Linked DNA regions of Homo sapiens. The protein of the gene in region 6 purifies or fractionates together with the protein of the main gene of each other region. This does not show direct contact. Each region holds a gene or a part of one and is shown on either strand. Other genes may lie near its edges.

Region 1 (5,068 bases), on a different chromosome or scaffold from region 6:
TTTTTCCCCTGTGAAGGTTTGCTGAGAAGCACAACTTTGCAAAACCCAATGACAGCCGTGCTCTCCAGCTGATGACCAAATGTGCGCAGACTGTGATGGAAGAACTAGAGGATATTGTGATCGCGTATGGACAGAGTGATGAGTACAGCTTTGTGTTCAAGCGGAAAACCAATTGGTTTAAAAGAAGAGCCAGGTAATTCCATGACCTAACTCCTTTCTTCAGAATATTTCCTCCCAGCATCTGGTTTTCTGTTTATCTTAATCGCAGACTTACAGGCTACAGATGATGTCTGCAGTATTTGTAACTGCAGAGTACATGTATATTTCCTGTTTAGATTGTTGTACTTCCATCTGATAGCCGAGCATTCTGTGTGCCTCTTTTATCTGATTCTTTCCCCACATGCCCCATAAGATTGGTTTCTAGACTGACCTGGCATTGAACATTAAGATTAGAAACAGAGACTATAAGAATGTAATATTAACAATTCATAGGTTGGCTTTAGCCAGTGATAGTCTCTACGTGCATTGCATTACACTGTTCCTCAAGACAGATCTCATTATAAAATACACAAATCTGATATTTGATTTGGCAGTATTTTGAAACGCTGTATGGGAAACAAATCATATAATGAATTGGTTTTTTCTTTCTTTCTTTTTTTAATAGAGGTGGGGTCTCTCTGTGTTGCCCAGGCTGGTCTCAAACTCCTGGCCTCAAGCAGTTCTCCTGTCTTGGCCTCTCGAAGTGCTAGGATTACAGACATGAGCCACCACGCCCAGCCTGAATTGGCATTTTTTTTACAACAATGGTTTCTCTCCTTTCATGACTGTAAACACAAACAGATCAGGCGTGGTGGCTCACGCCTGTAATCCCAACACTTTGAGAGGGTAAGGGAGAGGATTACTTGAGCCCAGAGGTTTGAGACCAGCCTGGGCAAGATGGTGAGACCTCATCTCTACAAAAAATTTAAAAATTAGCCGGGCTCAGTGGCATGTGCCTATAGTCACAGCTACTAAGGAGGTTGAGGCAGGAGGATCCATTGAGCCAAGGAATTTGAGGCAGCAGTGAGCTATGATTGTGCCAATCCACCCCAGCCTGAGGGACAGAGAGATTCCATCTTTTAAAAAATAAAATAAAATTTAAAAATACCCCTTGAATCATAAATTCGTATCACATCCTGTAGGGAAAGGTTTAGTATCAGTAGGTTACTTAATAGAACTGGAAGGAGAGGCAGGCTGCATTTAAAATACATAACTGGCCAGGTGTGATGACTCACGCCTGTAATCCCAGCACTTTGGGAGGCTGAGGCAGGCAGATGACTTGAGGTCAGAAGTTTGAGACTAGCCTGGCCAACATGGTGAAACCCCATCTCTACTGAAAATACAAAAATTAGCTGGGCGTAGTGGCCTGCACCTGTAATCCCAGCTACTCGGGAGTCTGAGGCAGGAGAATCACTTGAACCCAGGAGGCAGAAGTTGCAGTGAGCCAAGATGGTGCCATTGCACTCCAGCCCAGGCAACAGAGCAAGACTCTGTCCTAAAAAAAGAAAAAAAAATACAGAACCAAGGTATTAAAATAGTGTTTCTTAGCCAAATGCATTTTATCTCCTGGCTTTCTGGGCAGTTTGTGTACTCTCTGTGGTACCCACAGGTCTTATCATGGTGTTGAACTAATTCCGTGTATTTTTCTTTTTCTTACTCCACCCAATGTGCGTTACATTTTCAAGTAAGTTCATGACTCACGTGGCCTCCCAGTTTGCCTCCAGCTATGTGTTTTATTGGCGGGATTACTTTGAGGACCAGCCCCTTCTGTATCCCCCAGGCTTTGACGGAAGAGTCGTGGTGTATCCCAGCAACCAGACTTTAAAGGACTACCTCAGCTGGCGACAAGCAGATTGTGAGTGGCACCAAATAAACACATGTAGTTAAACCACCAATTCCATGTCTTACAGGTGTTGATCTGATACAGGATTGGCTCACATATACTTTGTTTCAACATATACGTTGTACAGAATGCAGTATTTAAATATTTTTTCAATTAGTTAAAAGTATTTGAAAAATTAAATTTTACGTAAAAACTCCTTATCTCTATTTTTTTTTTTTTTTAAGACAGAGTTTCGCTCTTGTTGCCCAGGCTGGAATGCAGTGGTGTCATCTTGGCTCACTGCAACCTCCACCTCCTGGGTTCATGGGATTCTTCTGCCTCAGCCTCCCGAGTAGCTGGGATTACAGGCATGTGCCACCACGCCCGGCTGATTCTGTATTTTTTAGTAGAAATGGGGTTTCTCCATGTTGGTCAGGCTGGTCTTGAACTCCTGACCTCAGGTGATCCACCCGCCTTGGCCTCCCAAAGTGCTGGGATTATAGGCGTGAGCCACCACGCCCAGCCGCCTTATCTCTATTTTTTAAAAAAATCAGATGTGGCAATACTGGATCTGCATTCTTACTTAGTACTAGACAAAGCCTGTTCAGTGGCAGCTACCTTTACACACACACACACACACAAATGCCAGTGTGCCATAGTCTCTGCCATTCCCTGTTGTTCCTCTGGGGTCACCCACTGCTTTACACATTTATGTTCATGCTGGCCTCAGTGGGTATTTGAATTGTGACCCTTGCCTTATGTGACTGTGATGATGTTTGTGAGGCTTTTACTTGCTTGTTCTAGTTTGAATTTTCCAGAAGAACTGGAAAAGAGATTGAAATAATATAAATCAAATAACTTCTAAAGTATTCCTAGGATTAACACACAAGTTAACAGATTTGTATAATGTGTAACTGAAATGACCAAATAAAACTGTTGTTAGGGATGAAGTTTTTTCCCTACTGCTCCTTCCCTCCATGTTCCGTGTGTAGGACTTCGGTCAAGTCACTGAATGTCTCTGAGATCTCTTTACTATGAAAGAGGAGAGGGTCAGGGCTCTAGTATTCCTTGAAGAATGAATATTCAATAAAGATTTTATGTATATAAACATTACTATTTTGTTCTCCTCACAGGTCACATCAATAATCTTTATAATACAGTTTTCTGGGCACTTATACAACAATCTGGACTAACACCAGTACAAGCCCAAGGGAGATTACAGGTATAAAGATCTTACTACATTAATACTTAACTGGGGACAGTTCGCTGTAGGCTCTCCCATAACTTTTTTTTTGTTAAATTTACATTTCTTTCTTTTAAGATCCCTGTACAGCTTTGTTTTGAAAGGATATAAAAATCATAATAGGAGCAGCTCTGCTGCCTGCTTGGTCTGTAATCCTGGATGAATTACTGCTTCTCCCTGAGCCTTTGTGTTCTTAGTGGAAAATGGAATTGACGGCACTGGCTCTGCATTCCCACGTGCTAACACTTGCCTGAAGCCGTGTATGACTGTGTATGACTGCCGTCTTCAGCACTGACTTTTTTTTTTTTTTTTGAGACACAGTTTCACTCTGTTGCCCAGGCTGCAGTACAGTGGTGTGATCTCAGCTGATTGCAACCTCCACCTCCTGTGCTCAAGCGATTCTCGTGCCTCAGCCTCCCAAGTAGCTGGGATTACAGGTGCATGCCACCACACCCAGCTAATTTTTGTATTTTTAGTAGAGACAGGGTTTCACCCCGTTGGCCAGGCTGGTCTTGAACTCCTGACCTGAAGTGATCTGCCTGCCTGGGCCTCCCAGAGTGCTGGGATTACAGGCGTGAGCCAGTGAGCCACCACACCTGGCCAGCACTGAATTTTTGTCAGTCCCACCACGCCTCTTCCCTCATTGCCATTTTCCCTGCTGGGCACCTGTAGTTTCTTGGGTTTATGACCTCTGTGTATAGGAAGAGTTCGTGCTGAGTTTGTTACTTTCATAAATGTCATAATAACTACTCACATCATGCTTCTGTGTAATTTTATCCTTTCTGCCTCAGTTCTTTATAGGTAAAATGTAGAAAATAGTAGTTTCTACCTCATAGGTTTATGGTGAGAATTAAATGGCATGATGCACGTAAAACACAGAATCGTATGAAGCACATTGTAAGTGCTTAATAAATACTGGTTTTTGTTATAACAGTGCTACTTGTAGGATGACTAACTGTGAAGTGAGGTAATGTGTTGTAACAGATCTTTTATTTGTATTTTATTTTATCTATTTATTTATTTTTTGAGATGGGTTCTTGCTATTTTCCCCAGGCTGGTCTTGAACTCCTGGGCTCCAGCAGTCCGCCCACCTCAGCCTCCCAAGTAGCTGGGATTACAGGTGCATGCCACTGTGCCCAGCTGTAACAGTTACTAATACAATGCCTGGTACATTATGTTTGCTCAATAAATGGTTGTCATTTTTAATAATAGTAATGATAGAGATTTTTATATAGCAATAATAGGAAAACTGGGGCCTGGTGTGGTGGTTCACGCATGTAATCCCAGCACTCTGAGGAGGCCAAGGTAGGTGGATCACCTGACGTCAGGAGTTCAAGACCAGCCTGGCCAACATGGTGAGACCGCTTCTCTACAAAAATTAGCTGGGTGTGCTGGCACACACCTGTAATCCCAGCGACTCAGGAGGCTGAGGCATGAGAATCGCTTGAACCTGGGAGGTGGCAGTTGCAGTGAGCTGAGATTGCACCACTGCACTCCAACCTGGGCAACAGAGTGAGACTTTGTCTAAAAAAAAAAAAGGCATACTGGTAGGTATATCCAGGTTTGGAAGAGTCAAGTTCAGATTTCAATTCTTCGTAGAAGAATAAGGACAACCTTTTAACCTTGGGGAATTTATATAACCTTTCTAAGTTTTACTGGACCAAATACATAATATGTATTCAGTTAGTATTAATTCTCCCCACTCCCTTTCAGTCTTGACTTGTGAAGCCAGTGTTTGGTATAGGAGAGAATTTTATCTAAGTAAGATCATAATTGCCCTTAAGATGAAAATTTACTAATAACTATAAGATGTTTGATAAAATCCTTCCACTTCTTGATTGTGGAAATTTAGGTTGTGGGTCGAATGGATAGTAGCACTAGGGGAGAAAGAAGACATGCAGAGCTTTTAATATCTATTTTTATTTTCTCAGGGAACTCTTGCAGCAGACAAGAATGAGATTTTG
Region 2 (5,068 bases), on a different chromosome or scaffold from region 6:
TCATTTCCTTGCTGCAGCCTACGCCAAACAGAAAACTGCACATTTTCATACACTCCCTATATATAGGACAGGAGGAGACAATTTACTGCTCCAACATCATTACTTTTTCTTTCAAGTCTCTATCACACTGACTTTAACATACCCCATAATCCCCTAAAACTGCTCTCTCACCACCTGTAAGGGATTAATGTCATCTTTTCACTACTGATCATCCTCTTCATCCTAACTCCTGACATGACTATCAGCCTATTTAAATAGCCTTGAAAATGAACCATCCAACACCTATTGCACAGGTTCTTAAACTTGTCCCAACTTCTATTCATCAGAATCACTGAAATTGCTTGTTAGAAATACATATTCTCAGCCCCTTTCCTTAGAAATTCTAGGCCAGTAGACATAGGTTTAAACCTAGGAATCTCACCCCAGGTGGTACTCATGCTTTAGTCCTTCAAATACAATCTGAGAAACACCATCCTCAATTTTCAGTTCCTTAAATCCTAAATTTGAAGAAATTAATCTACTCTCCAGCAACCAAATATTATAATCACATTTAAAGCTAGTTGTCACCTAAACTGCTGCCTCTCTGAAATCTTAATCCGACTCTCAGATCACAAGCTCTGGTTCTTCCAGCCTACTCATTCCCACACCTGCTCTTCAATTTCATGGGGACCTACCATCTCTTGACCATCTCCTTTCCTTTATCCAGTTCCTGATCTCATTTCCTTTCCTGCCCATTCTGGAACCCAATCTTTTTTACTTCTTAACAGAACCCTTGGCCCCCTCATATCTTTATCTCATATACACACATTTTACAAACCCCCATTTCTGCATAATTCTTACAATATGACATCTCAGGTTTCATGTCTTAACTACTTTGTGTTCATGGAGAAAAAGAGAAAGTCCTTTCTCTCACCACACAGCCCCCTGCTCCCCCACCCCAACCAACCACACCATAAATTCTGTCAACTTTTATTCCTAATCCCTTTGGAATCTATCCTGTACTCTCTACCCATTGCTAGTGCCCTAGTTTAAACCTACATAACTCTCACCTGGACTATTGTTCAGCCTGATTATCTTGTGTCAGTATCACCCTCATTTATTAAGCCTTTGAGTGAGATTCTCTCTCTCTCACTCTCTCACACACACACACATACACTCACTCTACAGTCTGTTTCCCAGGCTAGAATGCTGTGGCATGATCATAGCTCACTAAAACCTCAAACTGCTTGGCTCAAGCGATCCTCCCATCTCAGCCTCCCAAGTAGCTAGGACTGACTGATATATTTAAAAGGCAAAATGGACCAGGTTTCTTCCATATGTGAAGCACAATATTGGGTCCTCAGCCTACACAATAAAGACAAAGCTCCTTAGGACAACATTAAAAGGTTTTAAAGATCTAAACTGTAAATAATTAGTCTCTAGTCTTTTTTATCTTCAACAACCACCCATAGATTAATAATCTAGTTGTATAAAATTACTCATAGTCCTGCAAACCTCCCTTTGTAGCTCTGTATTTCCTCCTGCCTGGTACGATCTATTCCCTTTTACAGCTTATGAATGCCTATTTGTTCTTTAATATATTACACAGAAATGGTTATCTCTACCATTTTCTCTGACTACCTCCAGAAAGTTAACTGTTCTCTCCTCTATGTTTTGTATGTTTTTCTATTACGGAATTTATCACATGCACTAATTTCAATTCATTTGTGAAGTCTGACTCTTCTGTGAAATCATGAATCCCCTGAAGATAGGGAGATTTTTATATCTTTAAATAGCTAGTAAATTGTCAATCAATTTTTGTTGAACTGATATTTTTTGGATGAATGAAAAATCAACTCCTAAAAGTAACTATTGTGAGGAACAGAATATCAAAGGATTAGATTTATTCAAATAACACAACACTTGAGTTCTAATTGTGAACTCAAGCTGGAATCTGTAAGATACATAAAAATATCTAAGTTCTAATCCTTGCTTTATATAACTTAAAATCTAAAGGAGTTCCTACATTTACAAATATAAAATTCAACCCATCTTTGTATCTTTTGGCAAGCAAATCATTTACCCAGCTATTGTTCATTGTCAATGAATTCTCCAAAATGGAGATAAAAATCTAAGCATAAACCAAGATGGGTTTCTGAACAGCCAAAACAGCTTCACAAAGCTCTTTCCCCAATAAAGCTTATGATTCTTCACTAGGATGACCACATAGGTCAGCCCAGCATCTATCCAGTTTGCCCTTGGTCTCCCAACAAGTGTTCCAGTTCAGAAAAATTATACAGACATTCTACCCTTTACCCATCACAAAGGTTTTCGGACCATCACTCAAAAGTCAATTTGCTCTTACTTTACCCACAATTCTTTTGTTTTGTTTTGTTTTAAGAGACAGCGTCTGTTAACCAGGCAGGAGTCCAGTGGTATGACTGCAGGTAACTTAAACCTCAAACTCCTGGCCTCATGTGATGCTCCTACCACAGGCTCCCAAAGTGTTGGGATTACAGGTGAGGGCCACCATGCCCAGCCTTTACCCACAATTCTAACTTGAAGTTTTTTGGTCCACAAAGTCCTGCTGAGTGTTGCTGTTGGTCATTAGCACTGCCTATCCTTCGCTATCTTACAAGTCTTTTAAGATGTACCAATCCATCCTTCTCAGAACCTAATTGATTGAATGGTAAAACCTCTAGTGTGAAGATTCAATTAAAACATTTCTTCTAAAAATTTCGTTCAATCACTATTTGTACTTTAATAATTGAGATGTGTAGAAGGTACCATTTTATTCCTAAGAAATACACAAAAAATGTCCTTGTTTCTAATTCTCCTTATCTCCTGAATGCATTTACACATTATCTGTAACCAATCTAATTTATTCCTCTCTATTCACTTACTTTACTTAGGTCTTATCCATAAATATTTTATCTCTGAAACAAAAGTTGATTCTTAAAGGAATCTAAGTTAACTGAAACAAAGCAGCTTCAAAATAAGTACAAAAAAATCCTCTAAAGAACCCATATTTGAACACCCAAATAAGCTGTGATCTTTCCTATAAAACTATTTCACATAGCTGAAATAAAGCTATAGCCACAAATATTAAAGTAAAAGCTTTGCTACATATCCACTAGAACAAAGGTACTAAAAAAAAATCTGGTTAATTCAAGGAGATGCATTCTCTCATTCTGCTTTCCTTATTTGAAGACTAATGATTAAATTCAAGTAACTTATCAATAGCAAAATTATTTGAAAAAGCCCCTTATAAAGAAAACACACACACACACAAACCCAGGAGCAGAGAACTATTTACTTAATAGTACTGAAATAACAGCAAAGTATCTATGAATAATGACTTTCCATCAATATAAACTTTCTCCTTCAACAGAAAGAACATCCTTGCCCTCATTACACTCCTCTAGTCCAGTTATGTTCAGCAGTAAACAAAAGAATGTATCAGTGACCATAACTCACATTCGAGTATCTTTCTATACATTAATGCCATTTTCAAAAGAACACAGCCAAAGACATATTTATTTAGCCTATTTCTTCAATTTTTTTTTTTCTAATTCTGGCCTGAAGTCATTTCTAGGATTCCTTTAGAAATGGCTTTCTCTAATTTTCAAAATATTGATGATGTCATTTCTTTCTTTAAAGATCTTTGACGATAACCTCATACAGCTGACCTTTCAACAACACAGGTTGGAAATGAACAAGTTGACTTATATACATACAGTTTTTTCAATAAATATGTTGGAAATTTTTTTGGAGATTTGTGACAATTTGAAAAAACTTGCAGATGAATCATGTAGTCTTGAAACATCAAAAAAAGGAAAAGAAAAAATTAGGTATATTATGAATGCATAAAACATATATAGTCTATTTTATCATTTAGTATTATAAAATATAGAGAAATTATAAGAAGTTAAAGTGTATCAAAACTTAGTAAACACAGACACATATGGTGCCACTTGAGGTGGTACAAGAAATTTAAACAAATGTAAAGATGCAGTATGAATCATAGCTGTATAAAATTAATTGTAGTACATACTGTAATAATTTCCTGTTGCTATTATGAATTTCCACTTAAAATGCTGTGGACACTAATCATCTCTGCATGTATTGGAGTAAAATGTAATCTCTTGTTCTTGTGTATTTTTCATCATGTTTAGTACAATACCATAAACCTTGAATAACACCATGGGACCCATGTGAAGTGCCACTAGTGATGCTAGAAGTGCTCCCAAGAAGCCAAGAAGTCATGCCATTACAAGAAGTTAAATTACCTGGTACACACCCTAGATGGGTCTGCAGCTGCAGTTACCCATCATTTCAGACAGACACCTTATAAACAGGTAACATAAACACAGTATCGGTAAATGCAGTACTGTAAATGTATTTTTTCTTCCTTAGGAATTTATTTTCCTTTAGCTTATTGTAAGAATATAGTATGTAATGCATATAACAAACAACGTGTTAACTGACTTTACAGTAGGCTATTAGTAGTTAAATTTTGGGGAAGTCAAAACTTATACTCAGATTTTCAATTGTGCAAGGGGTTGGCACCCTTAACCCCATGTTGCTCAAGGGTCAATTGTACTGCCCTCTTATTGTCTTTGAGCATTCTTTTATTTCACCTCTCATTATGCATTATCTTTCAAAAATACATTTGCGTAGAACAACACAACCAGGTTCTTCTTGGCTGAGATTTAGCCATCTTATGCAACCAATAAAAGTGACTCCAGATAAAAGCAGACAAAAAACTTAACAGATGTAAACAGGAATCCTACAGCAGCCCTAAGAGTCCACAGTTCATATAATTTTAGTAAATCTTGCATGCTTTGGTGACTTTTTCAATTTCTATATCCTCATGAATAATTTTTTCAAAGTGCAGACTAACTGGATAAATGCTGGGGAAGGAAAATGAATTAAAACTAACATAATGCTCTAGATCCTAGCTATACAAACAAACTGGGATTCCCAACTAGTACTATCAGCACTACCTGGGAGCTCTTCACAAATGAAAATCCTAAGTGCCACCCTAGACCTACAGAACCAGATCTCCAAGTGATTCACATATATTAGT
Region 3 (5,068 bases), on a different chromosome or scaffold from region 6:
TGTGAAAAAGAAGATTCTGGAGGCTGTAGACCTCCCTCAATGCAACCACGTAGCTTCAAAATGTACAGTTTCACTGAAAGCTCTCCAAATTTAGAGATACACTCATCTTAAAGCTTTATATTACCCATTAGTTTTCTTCTGAAAATAAAGCAAAACATAAATCAAAATAAAGTTTTGAGACACTGTGAAAACATTCCAAATGTTTACAGTCATCAAATAGTGTGAAATGCCAAACATTAAAGCAGAACAATTTAACCATGTTGGAAACACTGCTCTGGTGGTGGGAAAAGTATAAAAAACATAAACTTATCAAATTATTTGGAACACCTGGAATGATAAAAATCAAAGAAATCCGAATAAGAATGAACCTTAGAGATCATTCTAGATATACCCCTTCCTAAGGACAACTCCCCATAGAGTATTCTCAGCAAGTGGCTCACTAGCTTCTCCCTTTTGGTGACAGGGAATTCATTACTTCCTAAGAAGACTGCCTCATTCCATTACTAGACAACTACACTTGTCAGAAAGTGATTTATTTTGATCCAAAATCTGGCTCCCAGTGACTCACAGGGCCTTGTTCTGCTCTCTGAAGCCAAGTACAGACGCATCAATGAAAACAAACGTAACATATCAGTTCTATAACATAATAGGTGAGATCAGAAAATATGAATCCAGAAGAAAAGTGAGTTTGGACCAAGTGTTCAAAGAAAAAGGGAACTATGAAATGGTTAAAAAAAAAATGTAGAAGGCCAGGCACAGTAGTTCACACCTACAATCCCAACACTTTGGGAGGCTGAGGTGGGAGAATCACTTGAGCCCAGAAGTTCAAGACCAGCCTGAGCAACATAACAAAACCTCATCTCTGCAAATAATAATTTCTAAAAATTAGTTGGGCCACCTGAGCCTCCAGTAAAAACAAAATCAGGTTAAAAAAAAAAAAAATAGCCAGCATAGTGGTGTGCACCTGTGGTCCCAGCTACTCTGGAGGCTGAGGTGGGAGGATTACTTGAACCTGTGAGGTCAAGGCTGCAGTGGGCTGTAATCGCACCACTGTACTTCAGTCAGAGCGACAGAGTGAGACTCCATCTCAAAATTACATATATATATATATATATAGAGAGAGAGAGAGAGAGAAAGAGAGAGAGAGAGAGAGAGAGAGAGAGACAGACAGACAGACAGACAGACAGAGACAGAGACATAGTACAAGTGCTAAAATAAGGTGGACTATCTTGGCTAGAACTGAGTGACCAGAGTGGAAAAACAAAGGAGAAAAAATACATAAAAGAGTTGATGGAAGATCCCTGAAGTCTAGGTGAAAATTACTGCAACTAGGCAAAACTATTCTGTACTTTGGAAAAATATTGAATGAATTTGAAATGTAAAGGACAGGCAGTAAATAAGCAGAACATGCAGCTCTAAAACACAGCCATCTCAGAGATTTAGAGCTGGTAAAAAAAAATCATAGACATTATGTATTGCAACACCTTAATTTTATAGACTTAATTAAATCCCAAGAGGAAAAGGTATCAATTTCCACTTTCATATTCCCCTCCATTGTAATAACACCTTCACTGAACATTTTCCTCTTTTGTACCCTTTTCTCCCCACCTCCTGCACAGCATGCTGAATCTGAGATGTTGTATAAGATCCTAACTATTTCAAAACTCAGCTTTCAGAGGGCAAAGAAGGGATAACGTAATAAAGCCCAACTGCCTGAATCATCCTGGCTTGCCACCAAGACCCAGAATGGACAGGATGTGGTCACACTGCAGGACTGGCTCTTGCCGGCCATGGAAACTAGCCAGGTATTATGCTGATACACGTATCTCCATCAGCAGCTAACAAGACAAGGAATCAAAATCACTGCTAATTTACCCACAAAACTGTCCATCTTTTCCCCTGGTATCATTCCCCTGGGTCTGCTATTGGGCATCCAAATTCCATCAGTTTCTTTTATGCAAACCTACACCTTTTCCTCTTTCACTTACCATCCATGCTACCCTCAGGGTACCATTTTCACCACCTTCCCACATCCCCAGGGTCACCCAAACTCTGAGCTTCTCGGGTTTTCTTCCCTAATCGGTCTCATTTTCTTCACACTTCACCAGTGCTTTAAAAATGCAGCTTTGTCTCGTAAATACCTGCCTTTTGAAAGGACATACTACTAAATTTAAAACACCAGGCTGCAAGATCCTGTTTTTATAAAAACAAAGGAAGAAAAACAGCAAAAAAAAAAAAACCAAAAACACCACACACACAAAAACCCTGCCTATATGTTTAAAGACATTTAAAACAAGTACAGAAGAATACTCAGCAAAGTGTTAACAACAGAGACAGAACTGTGGGAGAAGAAGGGAAAACTATTAATTTATATATGCTTTTCTCTAGCTTGGAGTACTGCAATAAAAACTGTCATAATTACACAATTTTAATTCTTAAAAAGCAAACTCTTGAAATGAAAAATAGAAAAGGCTGGGTGCAATGGCTCATGCCTGTAATCCCAGCACTTTGGGAGGCTGAGGAGGGAGAATCGCTTGAGGCCAGGAGTTCAAGACCAGCCTGGTCAACATATTGAAACTCCCCCGCCGCCCACACCCCCCACCAAAAGAAAAGAGGAAAAAAACCCACTTAAATTAAAAATGCTAATGCATCTTCAATAAAGATTAAATAAGATTGATAAAGATTAGTCAGTGAGCAGTGAGGACTGTTGCTCCCAGCCCCCATAACCCTAAATGGTGAGTAAGGGCTAATTTTCCACTTAGGCTGCCTTCTTAGACCTTACTGTCCCCAGTCAGCTTTTTTGCCCATCGTTTATTTGTTTTCATTTTTCCTAATTTAGAAAGCAATCAAACTAACTGGTGAAAACATTATTAAATTGTTTATATCCCATATTCTAGAAATTAGGCTTCTATAAAATAACAACCAATTGCACAAATTAATTTTTTTTATTAAATTGAAAGTTAGCCTGTAATCCTAGCACTTTGGGAGGCCAAAACAGGCGGACTGTCCTTAGCTCAAGAGTTCTAGACCAACCTGGCTTACATGGCAAAACCCTGTGTCTACAAAAAAAATACAAAAATTAGTCAGGCATGGCGGTGTGCACCTGTAGTCCCAGCTACTTGGGGGCTGAGGCATGAGGATTGCTTGAGCCCAGGAGGTCAAGGCTGCAGTAAGCCACGATCACACCACTGTACTCCAGCCTAGGTGACAAAATGAGACCCCATCTCAAAAAAAGAAAAAAAAGAAAGTTGAGGATCTGAATCCATCATGCAATGTACGCTTCCCCAGCAAAGAAAACATGAATTAAAAGGACTTATGTGGCTGGGCACAATGGCTCATGCCTGTAATCTCCACACTTTACGAGGGCAAGGCAGGCAGATCGCTCGAGCTCAGGAATTTCAGACCAGCCTGGGCAACATGTTTGAAATCTTCTCTCTACTAAAAGTACAAAAATTAGGCTGGGCGCGGTGGCTCATGCCTATAATCCCAGCACTTTCGGAGGCCAAGGTGGGTGGATCACGAGGTCAGAAGATCAAGACCACTCTGGCCAACATGGTGAAACCCTGTCTCTACTAAAAAAAATACAAAAACTAGCCAGGCGTGGTGGCGCGCGCCTATAATCCCATCTACAGGTGGCTGACGCAGGAGAATCACTTGAACCCGGGAGGCAGAGGTTGCAGTAAGCCGAGATTGCGCCACTGCACTCCAGCCTAGGCGACAGAGCGAGATTCTGTCTTGGAAAAAAAAAAATTATTCAGGCATGGTGGCAGGCACCTGTAGTCCCACCTATTCAGGAGGCTGAGGCAGGAGAATCGCTTGAACCTGGGAGGTGGAGGTTGCAGTGAGCTGAGATCAGACCACTGCACTCCAGCCTGGGTGATAGAGTGAGATTCCAGCTCAAAAAAAAAAAAAAAAATTACCCAAGCATGGTGGTATGCTCCTGTAGTCCCAGTTACTTGGGAGGCTGAGGCAGGAGAATCACTTGAACCCAGGAGGCAAAGGTTGCAGTGGGCTGAGATCATGCCACTGCACTCCAGCTGGGGAAACAGAGGGAGACTCAGTCTCAAAAAAAAATTAGCCAGGCATGGTGGCATGGGTCTGTATTCCCAGCTCCTTGGGAGGCTGAGATGGGAGGATCACTTGAGCCAGGATGGTTAGTTAAGGTTGCGGTGAGCTGTAACAGCACCACTGCACTCCAGCCTGGGTGACAGAGAGAAACCCTGTGTCAAAAACAACAGAAACTCATGTAACTTGAGCATCAATTTCACCCTCTAAAACTGCTCTGCCCCATAATACCTTCCTTTGTAAATAGAACCACCTCCTATCCAGCCTGAGAAGATTCTCAGCTCCACTGTCTTCCTCACTTTCCACATATAGTAACATCCAATGCCTGTTCCACCCTACCTCCCAAATAGCTCTTAGACGTGCCCCCTCCTCACGATCCCTACTGCCACTGTCTGTCCCACCACACAGCCTCAATCCACCCACTATGACCATCACCATAACCTTCTATACTGCACTTGTAGACTTGGCAGAGATATTTCATATTCAAGGTAGTATGATGCAGTGAAAAAAAAGTGGGCTTCTTCCAAGTTTCATCGTTTAGTTTTGTGGCCCTGGGAAGAGACCTAAACCTCTCTAAGACCCAGTTTCCTCTTCTGTATAATGCAAGAAACACCTACCTTGAGTAAGGATTGCTGCATGAATTAGAGGTGAGGCTTGTAAAGAACCTAGTTCTAAATGGAGCCTTGTACCTAAGTCAATGCTTTATTATTTTTATTATCTTCTTATCAGTAAAAATGAGCAGTAAGCCCTCTGAATTGTTTTGAAGACTGGTGAGATTAAACACAGTGACTGTTTCATTTATTTTCAATGGCTCCACATCCCCAAGACAAAATGTGGCCATGGCCCTTTCACAATTGCATCTCCTGCCACTTGACTTTACGTGCATTCTCCTTTAGCGTAATGAATTATTTAATACTAAGACTATGCAGCCCTTCATGCCCTCCTCTCCTCAAAGCCATAATTACAGGTGGAATCTTATGTGTGGGCAAGTCCTTTATGTATA
Region 4 (5,068 bases), on a different chromosome or scaffold from region 6:
AAAATCTATAGCATTTTTATTGTGCTGAAAGCATTAATATTTGCAGCACTTTGTGAGACAGGCAAAATTATCTTTTTGCTGACTTGGAAACTGCAAGAGTTAAAAGACTTGCTTGGAATCACACATGGCAGATAGAGGATAAGGAAAAGATGGCCTTTCAGTTCCTCATCAGTACCTTGCTACTACAGTGTCTGCAGATTGGTGTCTTACATTCAGCTATGATTTGTTCGCCAAGGTACCGTGTCTTCTTACTGAAGTTGTTTTGGCTGGCGCTTGCCTCCGTTCAGAGGGAACTGAGTTACCTAACTTTATGATGCTAAGAGCCAGGAAGGTACTGGGATCTGGGATGCTAGGCACCTAACCAGTCTAGACTGAACTCCATACTAAGCTGTTTTTCTGTGTTAAGGCATCAAGAGTAGATGGTGGTCCTGATTTTCTGAGATATATTATCTCTGAATTATCTACATAAATAACTGAAACTTTTATGTAATTTTAAAACTAGTCAATCATGTTACCACCCTTTTGAGGGGCACCAAATTTGAGACCCTTACCCCCAATTTATTAATTAATAGCTGTTTTAATCACCTAATAGCTGATCACCTAATGACTAACAGTCATTTTCATCCTGGAAAATGGGAACTAACTTTGACTTTGAAAAGTGCTGTTATTAAATGTGTGATTCATAAGAACTGAACATATTTTCTTTATTATTTTCCTTCAGGATTCAACTTTAATTGACTCCAAATGATGTTATGGTCATTCTGTTTTTCTGATACGAGAATAGATTGTTCTGAGAACCTAGAATATTCATTGCCTTTATGAATCTAGAATTGACTTTAAATTTAGGTTATTGTGTTTGTCATTTGCGCTAAAAAAAAAATTGCCCTGGGGAATACCAAACTTCTCGGTACATTCGTGTGGTGTGAAAGTCAAAATTGCCAATTAGGTTCTATTTTGACCAAATAGTTGAATGTTGTAGACAGTTGTAAATTTTGAACCTGTTCTAATTTGCCTTTTGCCAGATGGCGCATTTAACTTTGTGGCATATCATCGACTTTCAAGGAAAGATTTACTTTTCATCAGATTAAAGTTGAGGAAGGATTTTCTTTCTAAATACTGAGGCTCTGAATTTCCCAAGTTGGATACCCCAGACAGCTAGAGTGATCTTAAAAGTGACTCTGAGAGTTGACTTAGGAAGTGTAGACATTTATCCAAAATCTGTATTTACTCCTGACTTACATTACAAATACAGAGTTTTATTTTTAAAGAAAATTTCAATAAAAAGCACCATTTAATTAAAATCTACTCACCATCAAACTTTTTAAAAAGAACATAAGCCAATGTCAGGAGTTGGAGACCAGCCTGGCCAACATAGTGAAACGCTGTCTCTACTAGAAAAAAAAAAGAAATACAAAAATTAGCTGGGCATGGTGGTGCGTGCCTGTAGTTCCAGCTCCTTGGGAGGCTGAGGCAGTAGAATCGCTTGAACCCGGGAGGCGGAGGTTGCAGTGAGCCCAGATCATGCCCGTGCACTCCAGCCTGGGCAACAGAGAGAGACTACGTCTCAAAAAAAAGAAAAAAAGAAAAGAAATTTCAATAATTGCAGGCTGGGCATGGTGGCTCACAACTGTAGTCCCAGCACTTTTGGAGGCCCAAGCAGGAGGATTCCTGAGCCCAGGAGTTCAAGACCAGCCTGGGCAACATAGCAAGACCTCATCTCTACTACCAAGAAAAAAAAAACAAATTAGCTGGGCGTGGTGGTTCATGCCTGTGATCCCAGCTACAAAGGAGGCTGAGGCAAGAGGATCAGTTGAGCCCAAGAGATGGAGGCTGCAGTGAGCTGTGATCGAGTCACTGCACTCCAGCCTGGGCGACAGAGTGAGACTCTGTCTCAAAAAAAGAGAGGAAAAAAAGAAAATTTAAGTAACTTCTGTTTAGAATCCTAAATATTGGAGATGCCAAAGAATTCTGCAGTAAGTGTTAGAAACAGTCGGGAGGACAGTATGATTATTATCCTCAACCTGTGGATTATCTCTTCAGGTTTTTCAAGAAACACTGAGTCTGTGTTTTTGATGGGGAGAAGAAACTATTAATTAAATGCCCATTTTGTGCCAGTTACCATGCTAAAGATTAATGTCTGTCTTCAGAAATAGCACAGTATTTGGGCCCTGGTTGTGGTAATTCTTTTTGAGATGGGGAAACTGAGGTGCAGAGATTTTGCTACTTTTGTATTTGCAAAGTTGACAACCTGTTTCAGAATACCAAGGTTATCAGAACTTTCTTCATGTGTTTCTCAGTCCTTTTAATGCCCTTTAAAAACAGATTATCATCTCATTTTTTGCTAAGCTTACTGTTAATTTTATTTTAGTGGAATAAGAATATGGATACCTGTCTTTAAGAAGAGAGTAAGCAAGTAAACCTAGGGAAAGTATCAGGTTGTAGAACCACATACCGATGATCCTTGCCAAAATCCTGGCATAGGAATTTGAACCCTGGTGTATGAAAAGTCTGCCCTTTGCATACTCAGGTTTCGCATCCCGTGAATGCTGTATTTTTGATCCGAGTACTGTATTTTTTAATCTGAGTTTGATTGAAAAAAATCCAAATATAAATGGACCCATGCAGCTAAAACCTGGGTTGGTCAAGGACCAACTATAATAACTTTTATAAGCTGGAATTTATATTGAACAGCATCCATGATACTTTAGTATTACAACTAAAGTTGTACATACTGAGTAGGTAGGATGCCTTAGTAACTAGATAAAAGGTATACCACCTAGCCATAGTGATAAATATAGCTGTTTTCAAACTGTCATTCACAGATCTCTACCACAGTACCTGTTACGTGAAGTTCCTGGTTGGTTCTCAAAATTTTATGTTCGTATATACATAGATACAGATACTGATATACCGGTTAAATATGTACAGCTCAAATAGCTAAAATTGTCTTTAAGATTTTTTAAATTAAAAATATTATTGGCCGGGCGCAGTAGCTTACACCTGTAATCCCAACACTTTGGGAGGCCAAAGCAGGTGGATTACCTGAGGTGAGGAGTTCGAGACCAGCCTGGTCAACATGGTGAAACTAAAAATACAAAAATTAGCCGGGCGTGGTGGCAGGCACCTGTAATCTCAGCTACTCTGGAGGCTGAGGCAGGAGAATCGCTTGAATCCAGGCGGTGGAGGTTGCAGTGAGCCGAGATCGCGCCATTGCACTCCAGCCTGGGCAACAGAGACCGGGCGCAGGGGGAGGGGGAGTGTCTCTGTCTGCTTCTTTCTCTCTCTCTCTCTCTCTCTCTGTATATATATATAGTGTGTGTGTGTGTGTGTGTGTGTGTGTGTGTAAAATTGATATTTAGCTCCAGACAAATGGGAAATTACAAGGAAATGCCAGATTTGATATCTGGGTTCTAAGACTTTGCAGCCTAATGCATGTGTCATGCTAAAATAGAAGTAGTTAGACATGTGGAGTTAAATATGGTGATGGTTTCTGAGATGATTAAAATGACTGCCACCAGGTTAAGGTAGTTACAAAGCAGCTTTCTGTAATGGCAGCAGAGATAATAAACTGGGCAACAAGGGAGGAACCAATTTAAAGAAAAAAAGAATAATATACATTTTATATCATAGTAATATGGTTTATGTCTTCATAGGACAGAGTGACTTGCTCAGTGAAACAGACTGTATACAATTAGCTCAGAAACAAATACTGAGGTTTTTATCTGTTTGCTGTATCCCTTGAGAAAGATTAAAGAGGGAAGGCAGGGTGCAGTGGCTCACGCCTGTAATGCCAGCACTTTGGGAGGCCAAGGCAGTTGGATTGCTTGCGCCCAGGAGTTCGAGACCAGCCTGGGCAGCATGGCGAAACCCTGTCTCTACCAAAAAAAATTACAAAAAATTAACTGGGTGTGGTGGCACATGCCTGTAGTCCCAGGTACTCGGGAGGCTGAGGTGGGAGGATCACTTGAGCCTGGGAGGTCAAGATTGCAGTGAGCCATCATCGCACCACTGCACTGTGGTCTAGGTGACAGAGCGAGACTGTCTCAAAAAAAAAAAAAAGCCCAGCACGCTGGCTCATGCCTGTAGTCCCAGCACTTGGGAGGCTGAGGTGGGCAGATCACCTGAGGTCGGGATTTCCAGACCACCCTGACCAACATGGAGAAACCCCGTCTCTACTAAAAATACAAGGAAGTTAGCCGGGCGTGGTGGCGCATGCCTGTAATCCCAGCTACTTGGGAGGCTGAGGCAGGAGAATTGCTTGAACCCAGGAGGCGGAGGTTGCGGTGAGCCGAGATCGCGCCGTTGCACTCCACCCCGGGCAACAAGAGCGAAACTCCATCTCCAAAAAAAAAGATTAAACAGAGAAAGAAGCAAGCCAGTAATCTAAGATCAATTTATGATTTTTCCTCTAAATTCTGCTTTCTTCAACACAATTTACTTAATCTGAAAACCAGGGTTTAATAACAGTATGATTAGAATGTTTCATTTATAAAGTGGAGTTGAGATTGTACGTAGTATAAAACATGCTGTTGGAAGATTATCTCCTTTTGAGGAATCTCAAAATCAAGTGGGAGAAATCAAGTAGTCTTGGTGTGTGTGTGTTTTGTTTGTTTGTTTTAATGAGAGACAGGGTCTTACCACATTGCCCGGGCTCGGTTCAAACTCCTAGGCTCAAGCAGCTCTCCTGCCTCAGCCTCCCAAAGTGCTGGGATTACAAGTGTGAGCCACCACACCAGCCTCAAGTAGCTTTCGAGATGATGCCACAGCACTCCAGCCTGGCAACAGAGTGAGACTCCATCTCAAAAAAAAAAAAAAAAATTCAGTTTAACATACCAAGCTTTTGGTCAAATTTCTAGTAGTTTAGAATTTATAATAAGTATGGGTAATTAAAATAAACCATAAACACTTTAAAGTAAGGGAAGATTCATGAGTATACTATTAGAAATAATAACTAGGGCTGGGCGTGATCCTTCCACAGGTAGTTCTAGCTACTTGGGAGGCTGAGATGAGAGTATGACTTGAGCCCAAGAGTTCAAGACTAGCCTGGGCACTATGGTGGGTCCCCATC
Region 5 (5,068 bases), on a different chromosome or scaffold from region 6:
GCTTCCTTGTAATGGGTTTGAACATGCTCCTTTAGCTCAGAGAATTTTGTTATTACCGACCTTCTGAAGCCTACTTCTGCCAACTCATCAAAGTCATTCTGCATCTAGCTTTGTTCCATTGCTGGTGAGGAGCTGTGAGCCTTTGGCACAGAAGAGGTGCTCTGGTTTTTAGAATTTTCAGATTTTCTGCTCTGGTTTCTTCCCATCTTCATGGTTTTATCTACCTTTGGTCTTTGATGTTGGTGACCTACAGATGAGGTTTTGGTGTGGATGTGCTTTTTGCTGATGTTGATGCTATTCCTTTCTGTTTGTTAGTTTTTATTCTAACACTCTGGTCCCTCAGCTGCAGGTCTGTTGGAGTTTGCTGGAGGTCCACCCAAACCCTGTTTGCCTGGGTATCACCAGCAGAGGCTGTAGAACTGCACATATTGCAGAAGAGCAAATATTGCTGCCTGATCCTTCCTCTGGAAGCTTCGTCCTAGAGGGGCACTCGCTTGTATGAGGTGTCTGTCGGCCCCTACTGGGAGGTGTCTCCCAGTTAGACTACAGGGGTGTCAGGGACCCACTTGAGGAGGCAGTCTGTCCCTTCTCAGAGCTCAAATGCCATGCTGAGATAACCACTTCCCTCTTCAGAGCTGTCAGACAGGGACGTTTAAGTCTGCAGAAGTTGTCTGCTGCCTTTTGTTCAGCTATGTCCTGCCCTCAGAGATGGAGTCCATAGAGGCAGTAGGCCTTGCTGAGCTGCGGTGGGCTCCACCCAGTTTGAGCTGCCCAGCCACTCTGTTTACCTTCAAGCCTCAGCAATGGCAGACGCCCCTCCCCCTGCCAGGCTGCAGCCTCACAGGTGGATCTCAGACTGCCATGCTAGCAGTGAGCCATGCTCCATGGGCGTGGGACCCACCAAGCCAGGCATGAGAGAGAATCTCCTGGTCTGCAGGTTGGTAAGACTGTGGGAAAAGCACAGTATTTGGGTGGGAGTGTACCGATTTTCCAGGTACAGTCTGTCACGGCTTCCCTTGGCTAGGAAAAAGAAATCCCCCGACACCTTGTGCTTCCCAGGTGAGGTGACACCCTGCCCTGCTTTGGCTCACCCTCGGTGGGCTGCATGCACTGTCCAACCAGTCCCAACGAGATGAACCAGGTATCTCAGGTGGAAATACAGAAATCACCCATCTTCTGTGTCGATCAACACTGGGAGCTGCAGACTAGAGCTGTTCCTATTTGGTTATCTTGGCCATTCAGTAAAGTTATTTAATTTAAAACATTATCTGAGATGATATTATTTCTACTTCTTGGTGTATAAAAATTGTTTTTTTAAATGAAATGATGATGATAGTTGATGAGATCTAAAAAATAAAAGGTTGATAACACATCCGAAGATTTTTTGAAAATAGAATTGGTCTGTGGGAACCACTGTTTTAGGGAATTTTGGTCATGTATAGAAATTAATGGATTATATATAAAGAAAAATTTGAAATTTGTATGTATTTGTAGACTTTAAGCAAACAGAGCCAAATCAGATCCTGTCAAAAGTTACTGATTGTGATTTATAATGAAATGAGATCTACCTATACATCATAGTGTTCTTAGAATATTAACGTACATTGTGAATAACTGCATATAGTTTCTGACTGAATATAAACCCCATCTTTAAACTTACAAATATATATAATACCTACATAAATCAAAAGTTTCAAGGTACATGGCTAGTAAAGATTAAAATGCACAATTTCTAAACTGTTTTAAAATGGTCTAATTTAAAACTACTGACTTACATAACTTTGGCTATTAATCAAAATATAACTTCAGGGATATTGAGGAAATGGTCAAGATGACATTTTCAAATAAGAAGTAGTGGGAAGTAAGAAACCTTGATGTGAGCACTGCTTCACAGTGTAAAACTGACATAAAAATTGTTAAGGAAAAAGGTATATCTTTGAAATTGAAGGTGACTAGATATGTGAATGCTGTAGTGCTGTTAACAATACATAAAGAAGGTTAAAATATATTCTATTACATGTGTTCTATGTATTCTATTACAGTGGTTCTATTACATTAAAGGTGTCTCAGAAAATTCTGCTACAATGTTCAAGTCCATTAAATTAACAAGTGACTTCTTTGCCTGGTAAGCTGTTTGTTAACATTTTGCTAGCTGTCAAAAGGACTGACAGATTATGCAGCTTTATTTAAATTCTAATAAAAATGCAAAGATCATTCAAAATAAACATATATAATTATGCACTGTGAAAAGCAGTATTGAATACTTCAGAAGAACAACACAAGAAAATTAATTTCACCCTACTGGTTTTTATGCACCTACAAGTCTCAGGTTGCAATGTCACAGATGATCTCAACTCAAGCAGGATTATTGTAAAGCTAAATTAGTTCAGGTGGTAACTTGACTGCCTCTTCCCCTTGCTAATAACTTTGCCTATTAACTTGTGACTGTGAAATGATTTAAATAGTATGGCCTCCATGAACTGATGATCAGTTATTAAATAAAAATGGTTTGCCCTACAGGGTAACAATGGTTCCCAAGAAAATGACTTTTTTGACCCCAAATATGGCATATGGTATCCAATCTAAAAAAGTTCACTGGGTTAATTCTACTTTTGTTCTAAACTATTAACATGATCAATAACTACATATTGTTTAGTTCCCAAAAGAAAGTGTTTTGTTTTGTTTCATGTGTTTGAAGTATTATTACAAGATCATTTAACTTACTTTTGAACTTTTTCATTGGCCACTTGGGAGGCCTCTCTGGCATGTTGAAGTTGTAATTCCATATTTGCTCGCTCTGTCAGAGCTTGTTGCAGTTGAGTAGCCAGTTCCTCATTTTGTTGTTGAGTGATGGAAACAATGTTCTCTCTGTTTTTTAAAGCTTCTTCATATGTACTAAGGGTATAGTTAAACTGATCCTTCAGATTTTCTTCTTGAGATAAAGATTTGTGTAAACTGAGAAAATATTAAAAAAAATTTAAAGATAAGTAATGTAAACTGAGTGATCTATGATCTATTTAACAAAAACCTCCATTTAGAATCTCTAGTTCTAAAAATCAATAAATACTTAAATGAGCAAATGAAAATAATTTTTATGTCACAACATTATAATTGATAATTTCTCTGCTTCTAGGCTGAAAGCTACCCAGACAAATGATTATGCTACCAAAGCATACAAAAAGATGCTGCAAGATGTTAATTTAATTATATCAGTGTAAATATTACATTCAATTTTCTTTAAAAGGAATAGCAGAGAACTGGAAAATAAAGTATCTCTAGGCAAATAAAAGAATGTAATAAGCTGAAAGAAGTGAGAAGAGAATGGGCATTGGTTTAGGAGATCGAGGGTCTATTCTGCCAAGCACTTAATGAGAATGGATGAGGTTTATGCAAACACTGACCAGCCTTCTACATAGCATTTTCTACTTGATCTTCTACTTGTCACAGTTGAGATATAAATGAATTTAAAATCACTAGTCAGATTGCACAGAAATAAAATGTATTCATATATACATGTGTATATTTTTTTTTGGCTAATGAATCTCTTAACGAATACATCTACTCATTAAGTCATACAGAGAAATAGCATATAAATTAAGACTAAATGAATGCAGAAGAAAATGCAGACAAATAGAATCCTAAAATGCTAAAGGTCAAATCTTTGATATGTCATTACACCTACCACCTGAGGTTATTTTGAAATGGCACCAAGCACCTCACTCAATTAAATAAAGACATTTTGAAAATATAAATATTTAATAAGAGAAATTTAAACTCCACACAGGAGATGTTCTTTTTTATTAAATATCATTTCAGTATATGCATACAAAGGAAATGTCGATTGGAGACATTTGAAGTAAAACAACTTAACTATATAATATAGATTGATAATGGGAAGGAAAGCAATATCATTATTAAACCTGCAAAAAGCTAGTTAGTGAACTTTGGCATTGTCCTAATATCTAGCCTGATACTTTCTTTAAAACTGTTCAAAGTAATTATAAATTTCCTCTTTTAGTTTAAGTTATCTATAAGCCTTTACAGTATGCTTATTTTGGAGAAGGCGTCCCATAGAACTAGGATGGATATGAAACAAGGACAGTCAGCATACCAAATGAAACCACTTCAGGATTCAAACCCCTAAGAATACGGACTGTTACTAAGCGCTGGTCAACTGGTTACTACACAGAAAATTAGAATAGTGTGTAGTGCCACATTTGTAGAGTGCAAAAAATACCTTTTTTCATGGTTTGCACATTGTTATTAATCTAACTATCCCTACTTCATTTCTTCTCAGATTTTTCTACCAACCCATATGCTTAAAGGCTGTCTCTTGCCCATTTTACTATTTTTTCTGTGTCCTCTCACTTTCTGCATTCTTGTCTGTTCCAAGTTCCAATTTTCTTCAGCTCACCCTCTTTATCTCCATGAAAGATGCAAGAAAGAAAGAAAGAAAAGAAGAAACAAACTAAAAGCTAAACCTTAAAAAAGGTACTTGTTTATGTTCTTTATATTTAAAACATTAGTTATATTTTAATTGTTAATTACGTTTTAAATTACACAAAGTGCATATATACAAAGTATTCAGCTTGAAAAAATGTGAAGAACAAAATACAGAACAAATGCAGAAATCTAGAAGACCCCCCAGTGTTCCCTCCCATTTTTTCCCCTCCCCAAAAGGTAAGTACTAATCCAACCTTTATCAAAATGTAAATTGCCTATTTTTAAACTTTTTGTCTGGCTTATTTTCCTCAACAATTGGTAAGTGAAGTTCACCTTGCTGTTGCATATAATTCATTGCTTTTTATTGCTATAAAATATTCTGTTATATACATATGCCGTAACTTATTTAACTGTCCACAGTTGTTGCTATGGATATTCCTGTACATGTCTTTTGATGGACCTAGGTATTCATGTGTAAAGTAGAATTTCTCCAAAGGGTATGCATTATTTTCAGATTTAGTACAATGATAATAGATGCTGATTTAGATTTAGATGCTGCTAATAGTCTTCCAAATTAGTTGTACCAATTTGTACTCCCATCAGCAAAATATGAGTTTCAATTGCT
Region 6 (5,068 bases):
AGGGGCTTGGTGGATGACTAAGGTCAAGATCAGGAAAGTGTATAGAGTCCAAGAAGCCTTTTGGCCTGCTTGGGCAATGGGTGACCATGACCGCAGGTCCCTATAGAGCAGATCCTGTGGGAGGGAGGGAGAGTCCTGGGGAAAAGTTGCTGGACAAGCTGGTTTGAGTGCCTTCCTGGCCCCTGGAAGGACTGGAGAGAGAAGCAATAGAACCATCCAGGGCTTTCCATGAAATGGAAGAGAGCTGAGAGGGGTACTGGCCTCAAGTCATCCTCCCTTGCCCGAGAAAACACAAAAGTTCCCAGAGCCCCTGGTGAGCTAAGGACACTACTGAGGAGCAGTGCTGGTCTGTGCCAAGGGCCTTGTGCCAGGAAATACCTGGTGCCTAGCTATAGGATTTGCCTTCACCAGCCCCTGCTGTCTCTGGACAGGAGGCTGGACAGGCCAGAGAGACCCAGCCCAGCATGTGCCTGCTGCCCAGACCCATGACTTGCACTTGGCAGTGACACCACAATCACTTCCCACTCATATGGCCGTGATGTTGGCCCCCACTCACCTCATTCGGGCCTTTCAGCAACCCAGTGAGGGAGTCAGGCTGACATGCACAATCTTCCTTTTAGTCCCTTCTACCTCTTCTATCCTCCCCCCATCCCCTGCCTTGATCCTGAAAAGATCTGGGTCAGCAGGTAAGAATACAGGAAATGGTTTGACATGTTAATTACAGTAACAGGAAGAACACAAAGGTAGAAACCTGTAATGGAACGAGGAATGAGGATATGAAAATGCACACACCTACCTACAACAGTGTAGACCCTGCCTAAGGAGGGCCACAAATCTGGCTCTAAACTAGGGATGTCCAATCTTTTTGCTTCCCTGGGACACACTGGAAGAAGAACTGTCCTGGGCCACACATAAAATACACTAACACTAACTACAGCTGATGAGCTTAAAAAAAAAAAAAAAAATCGTGGGCAGGCGCAGTGGCTCACACCTGTAATCCTAGCACTTCAGGAGGCCGAGGTGGGAAGATTGCCTGAGCTCAGGAGTTTGAGAACAGCCTGGGCAACATGATGCAAAGCCCATCTCTACTAAAATACAAAAAAATAGCTGGGTATGGTGGCACACACCTGTAGTCCCAGCTACTGGGACGGCTGAGGCAGGAGAATCACCTGAATCTGGGAGGCGGAAGTTGCAGTGGTCTGAGATTGTGCCACTGCACTCCAGCCTGGGTGAAGGAGCAAGACTCAGTCTCAAAAAAAAAAAAAAAAAAAAAAAATCACAAAAAAAAATCTCATAATGTTTTAAGAAAAGTTTACAAATTTGCATTGGGCCGTGTTCAAAGCCATCCTGGGCTGCATGCGGCCCACAGGCCACGGGTTGGAAAAGCTTGCTCTAAATTTTCTCGAAGAGACTTATTCAACAGAAACGTAACAGGAGCTGCACATGGAATTTTTAATTCTAGAAGCCACATTTTTTAAAAGTAAAAAAATTTAAAAAAAGAGTGAAATTATAAAAATACATTTAACCCAATATATACAAAATATATTTCAACATGTGATCAACATAAAATAATATTATTATCCATACTTTTACTTTTTTAAACTAAGTCTTCACAATCCGTATGCACTTGACTCTTGTGACACATCTCAACCTAGACAGTGGCATGTGGCTCCTGTGTTGGGTGGCGAAGGTCTAGAAGTTGTTGTATTTGGGTAGATGCATCTACAGTGTCCCACAACCCAGTGTCCATAAAATAACAACCATTCTGGAAGAACAGGCAGCCAACACAGCTCAGGGCCCCAGAGGAGGCATAGGGTCAGCATCAACACTACCAGACACATGGAACTCCAAGTTTCACAGTGCCTTCCGAACAGAGACATCACCAGCAACTGACACGATCACCCCAACAGGCCCTAAAAAGGCAATGTCTGTCAAGCTGAAAGGCAACCTACCTCCCTGGGGGCCCAGCTTCCTGGGGCTTGACGAGGCCTACAGGGGCTTTTAGGCTATCTGGGAGACGAGTGACCAGTTCTTTCAGCACCTCCTGCTGGAATATTCTTTCTCAGCAACTTTGCATTTGATAGATGAGAAACAACCAGGCGGAAAATTAGTGACAGACTTGGGTCTGGATCCAGGACCGACCTTTGATCTCACTTTCCTTCCACTGTGACCACCCTCCTGGGAATGAGGACACCACTGGAAGGACATCTCAGTAAAGAAAGAAGTGCTGTAATCTAGGAAAACCACAGCCCACGTAGGAAAAGGACAGGGATTGGAAATGCAACAAACATTGATTGTGGGGGGTCAGTTGGTAAAGGCCACCCTGCAATGTTCATGTGGCAAATCAAAGTCCAAGACGGGATCCCCACTGGATTCCATGGCCTCAAATGCTTCCAGTCATCAACTTCCAGCTCCTGACAAGATCATCAATGGATTGGATGGCTCAGCATAAGTTGTTACTACTGTTAAAAGGACAAGAAGAGCTGTTGCTATTGGCAAGTGGCAGGAGTGGGCATTATCTTTCTATATGGGAACTAGCTTCCCAGTGGCACCTCCAGCAATTTACAGAAAGCCATCTGCTGATGGGATCTGTCCCCTCAGAGTCACAAAGCTCTCCCTAACAGGACAAGAAGATGCCTGGGGAGCAAAGCAGCCTGGAGGGCAAGGTCACCACAGGAGGGAGGGGGATAGCCCACCTAGGCGACACCCAGGGAAAGGCTGAGCAGGAATCCACTGAGGACCTGGGACAGTTTTGGGCAGTCAGCAACACATTCCATTTGGCCTGCTTCACCAGGGACTCCTGGCACTCAGCTGAAACGGAATTTGGGGAGGACAAAGTCTGAATCAACGTGCATCATCCATCAGTGAGCCAGCAGCCAGCAGGGAGGGTGACCTTCCCAGGGCACAGCAGTCAGATTCCCAGGATGCCAGGACACTGAATCAAAGGCATGGGGACTCAGGCTGCAGATGCTCCCACCCCACCTAGTGCAGACCATCAAAAGACTCAAACTAATGGTAACTGGGGCCAGGGTGATGACTGTCCTGTGAAAGCTAAACCCATACTTCTAGATGAGGTCACAGAGGTTGCAAAGTCACCCTAGAGAGTTTGGAAAGGAGCAGGTAAACGAGAGCACTCACATCTGAGGAAAGAATGCAACCACTAAGAGGGGGCTGAGAAAGTCACAGAACAGACCCAGGTCCATCCTAGATCCACGCTCCTTTCCTCTTCCCTCCACTGGAACCCTCTCGGAAAGCTGAGGATGAGCCTGGAGGACTCAAAAGAACTCCACTAAGATCATGACAAGGAGACACAGCCAGCAGCCTTCCCTGGAGGGACAGCACGCTCCAGGTAGGCACCAGCTGACTTCCTTCTAACTTCCAGAGGAATCCCACCATAAATGGCCATGGAGCTGCCTGCCTGCAAAGGAGCCCCAGCCCCAGGTCAGACAGGGCCTCATCCGAAGGACAGCCATTTCCGGGAGCCTCAGAAAATACCGAAACAGGCGCTCTACCTTTGGGATATACCTGGCCCAGTGGATTTGGCTCTGACTGTAACATCAGAATCCCTTCTCACCCCACCCAGACTAAGAGAATCCACATGTCTGGAAAGGCTCAGGTAAGGGTATTTTTGAAGCTCCCTGGTGGCTTTTTATGGACGGTGGATGGAAACCCAGTAAATGCACTGAGAATCCAGAGAAATGAACACCCACCTAAAGCACTGAAACACATGATCAGAGCAATGTGCATGGTCTAGTGAACTGTCAACACTCAAAGGGACCTCGAAAGACAAACACCCCAATCTCCTCCTCATCTTGAAAGCCCAAGCACAGAAGGGCAAAATGCCACCGGCCTCCTCCGTGAAGGGTGCCCCTCAAGCCAGGCTGCCTCTCTCACACAGCAAGAAGACACTGACTCCCTGCTGAGGTCAGAGCACTGGCGTACCCACACCTGTGTCATCAAATGAGGGAAGCTATTACTAGACCTTTCCTCCCTATACAACCCACAACATTCCACAACGTGTTGTGCAGTTTAGCAAGAGAGACGAGGGTCTGCTTTACCTTTCCTGCACCAGCGACATCACAAGTTCACTGGAGGCAAAGTAAGTCTTACGCTACCTCAGTGTACTCCAACTCTCATAGAGCTCATCTGATAGAAGAGTCAGTGATGACAGAATATTCTATTTATGCACTGTCAGTATAACATTGAGGAACTGCTTTTTTTTTTTTTTCTGAGACGGAGTTTCGCTCTTGTCACCCAGGCTAGAGTGCAGTGGCAGATCTCAGCTCACTGCAACCTCCGCCTCCTGGGTTCAAGCAATTCTCCTGCCTCAACCCCCCAAGTAGCTGGGATTACAGGCACCCGCCACAACACCTGGCTAGCTTTTTTTATTTTTAGTAGAGACGGGTTTTCACCATGTTGGCCAGGCTGGTCTCAAACTCCTGACCTCAGGTGATCCACCTGCCTCGGCCTCCCAACATGCTGGGATTACAGGTGTGAGCCACCATGCCTGGCCGAGGAACTGCATTTTTACATGTTAATTTTAATTGATTGTGTTTAAATAGCCACATGCAGCTAGTCCACCCTATTAGACAGCACAATGCAAGCATGACTCTTCCTACTACTACCATGTGCCTATGCAGACACTGGAAAAATACATAGGAGTAGTAGAGGCCAAGTAAAGAGACCACAGTGGATTCTCCTCTGCAGAAGCCTTCTCTGGAGCAGGGCAAGGAAGGCTGTAGGGAGGCATATAATGCACATTACACAGCCCTCCTCCACAAGCAACAGAGAGACAGCTCTTTCCCAAAGTGCTATCTACAAACTATCACCAAGGAACAAGCAAAAAGAGTTTGAGAAAGAACTGTAGACTTGTGTCAGAGCAGAGCAAGAATGAGTTGTGCAAATCAGCTAGACCAACTGCTCACTTTACAGATGAAGAAACTGAGGCTCAGAAACGTAAAGAAACTTCCATAAAAATCATAAATCATGGGGTTGGAGGTAGCGTGAAACTCAGCCCAAGACTTTTTTCACTACAACTGATTTCCTCAGAGGATGATAAATCTGTAGA

What was found.
Region 1: the proteins of SH3BP5L (region 6) and THG1L purify together in Homo sapiens (affinity purification with mass spectrometry; 2 studies listed by BioGRID and IntAct, with this or other methods). This does not show direct contact.
Region 2: the proteins of SH3BP5L (region 6) and RNF146 purify together in Homo sapiens (affinity purification with western blotting, with the first as the bait; one study listed by BioGRID). This does not show direct contact.
Region 3: the proteins of SH3BP5L (region 6) and BICD1 purify together in Homo sapiens (affinity purification with mass spectrometry; 2 studies listed by BioGRID and IntAct, with this or other methods). This does not show direct contact.
Region 4: the proteins of SH3BP5L (region 6) and WTAP purify together in Homo sapiens (affinity purification with mass spectrometry; 2 studies listed by BioGRID and IntAct, with this or other methods). This does not show direct contact.
Region 5: the proteins of SH3BP5L (region 6) and MIPOL1 purify together in Homo sapiens (affinity purification with mass spectrometry; 2 studies listed by BioGRID and IntAct, with this or other methods). This does not show direct contact.

Annotation. Positions count from the first base shown.
Region 1 is NC_000005.10:157,732,852-157,737,919, forward strand, and holds part of THG1L (probable tRNA(His) guanylyltransferase), read left to right. Parts: intron 1-16; coding exon 17-193; intron 194-1,724; coding exon 1,725-1,894; intron 1,895-2,994; coding exon 2,995-3,083; intron 3,084-5,035; coding exon 5,036-5,068. UniProt on the Homo sapiens protein: Adds a GMP to the 5'-end of tRNA(His) after transcription and RNase P cleavage. This step is essential for proper recognition of the tRNA and for the fidelity of protein synthesis.
Region 2 is NC_000006.12:127,272,242-127,277,309, reverse strand, and holds part of RNF146 (E3 ubiquitin-protein ligase RNF146), read right to left. Parts: intron 1-5,068. UniProt on the Homo sapiens protein: E3 ubiquitin-protein ligase that specifically binds poly-ADP-ribosylated (PARsylated) proteins and mediates their ubiquitination and subsequent degradation. May regulate many important biological processes, such as cell survival and DNA damage response.
Region 3 is NC_000012.12:32,112,559-32,117,626, reverse strand, and holds part of BICD1 (protein bicaudal D homolog 1), read right to left. Parts: intron 1-5,068. UniProt on the Homo sapiens protein: Regulates coat complex coatomer protein I (COPI)-independent Golgi-endoplasmic reticulum transport by recruiting the dynein-dynactin motor complex.
Region 4 is NC_000006.12:159,729,575-159,734,642, forward strand, and holds part of WTAP (pre-mRNA-splicing regulator WTAP), read left to right. Parts: intron 1-1,310; exon of another isoform or gene 1,311-1,391; intron 1,392-2,822; exon of another isoform or gene 2,823-2,857; intron 2,858-5,068. UniProt on the Homo sapiens protein: Associated component of the WMM complex, a complex that mediates N6-methyladenosine (m6A) methylation of RNAs, a modification that plays a role in the efficiency of mRNA splicing and RNA processing.
Region 5 is NC_000014.9:37,497,795-37,502,862, reverse strand, and holds part of MIPOL1 (mirror-image polydactyly gene 1 protein), read right to left. Parts: intron 2,956-5,068; coding exon 2,725-2,955; intron 1-2,724.
Region 6 is NC_000001.11:248,818,451-248,823,518, forward strand, and holds part of SH3BP5L (SH3 domain-binding protein 5-like), read right to left. Parts: intron 2,812-5,068; exon of another isoform or gene 1,953-2,811; intron 1-1,952. UniProt on the Homo sapiens protein: Functions as a guanine nucleotide exchange factor (GEF) for RAB11A.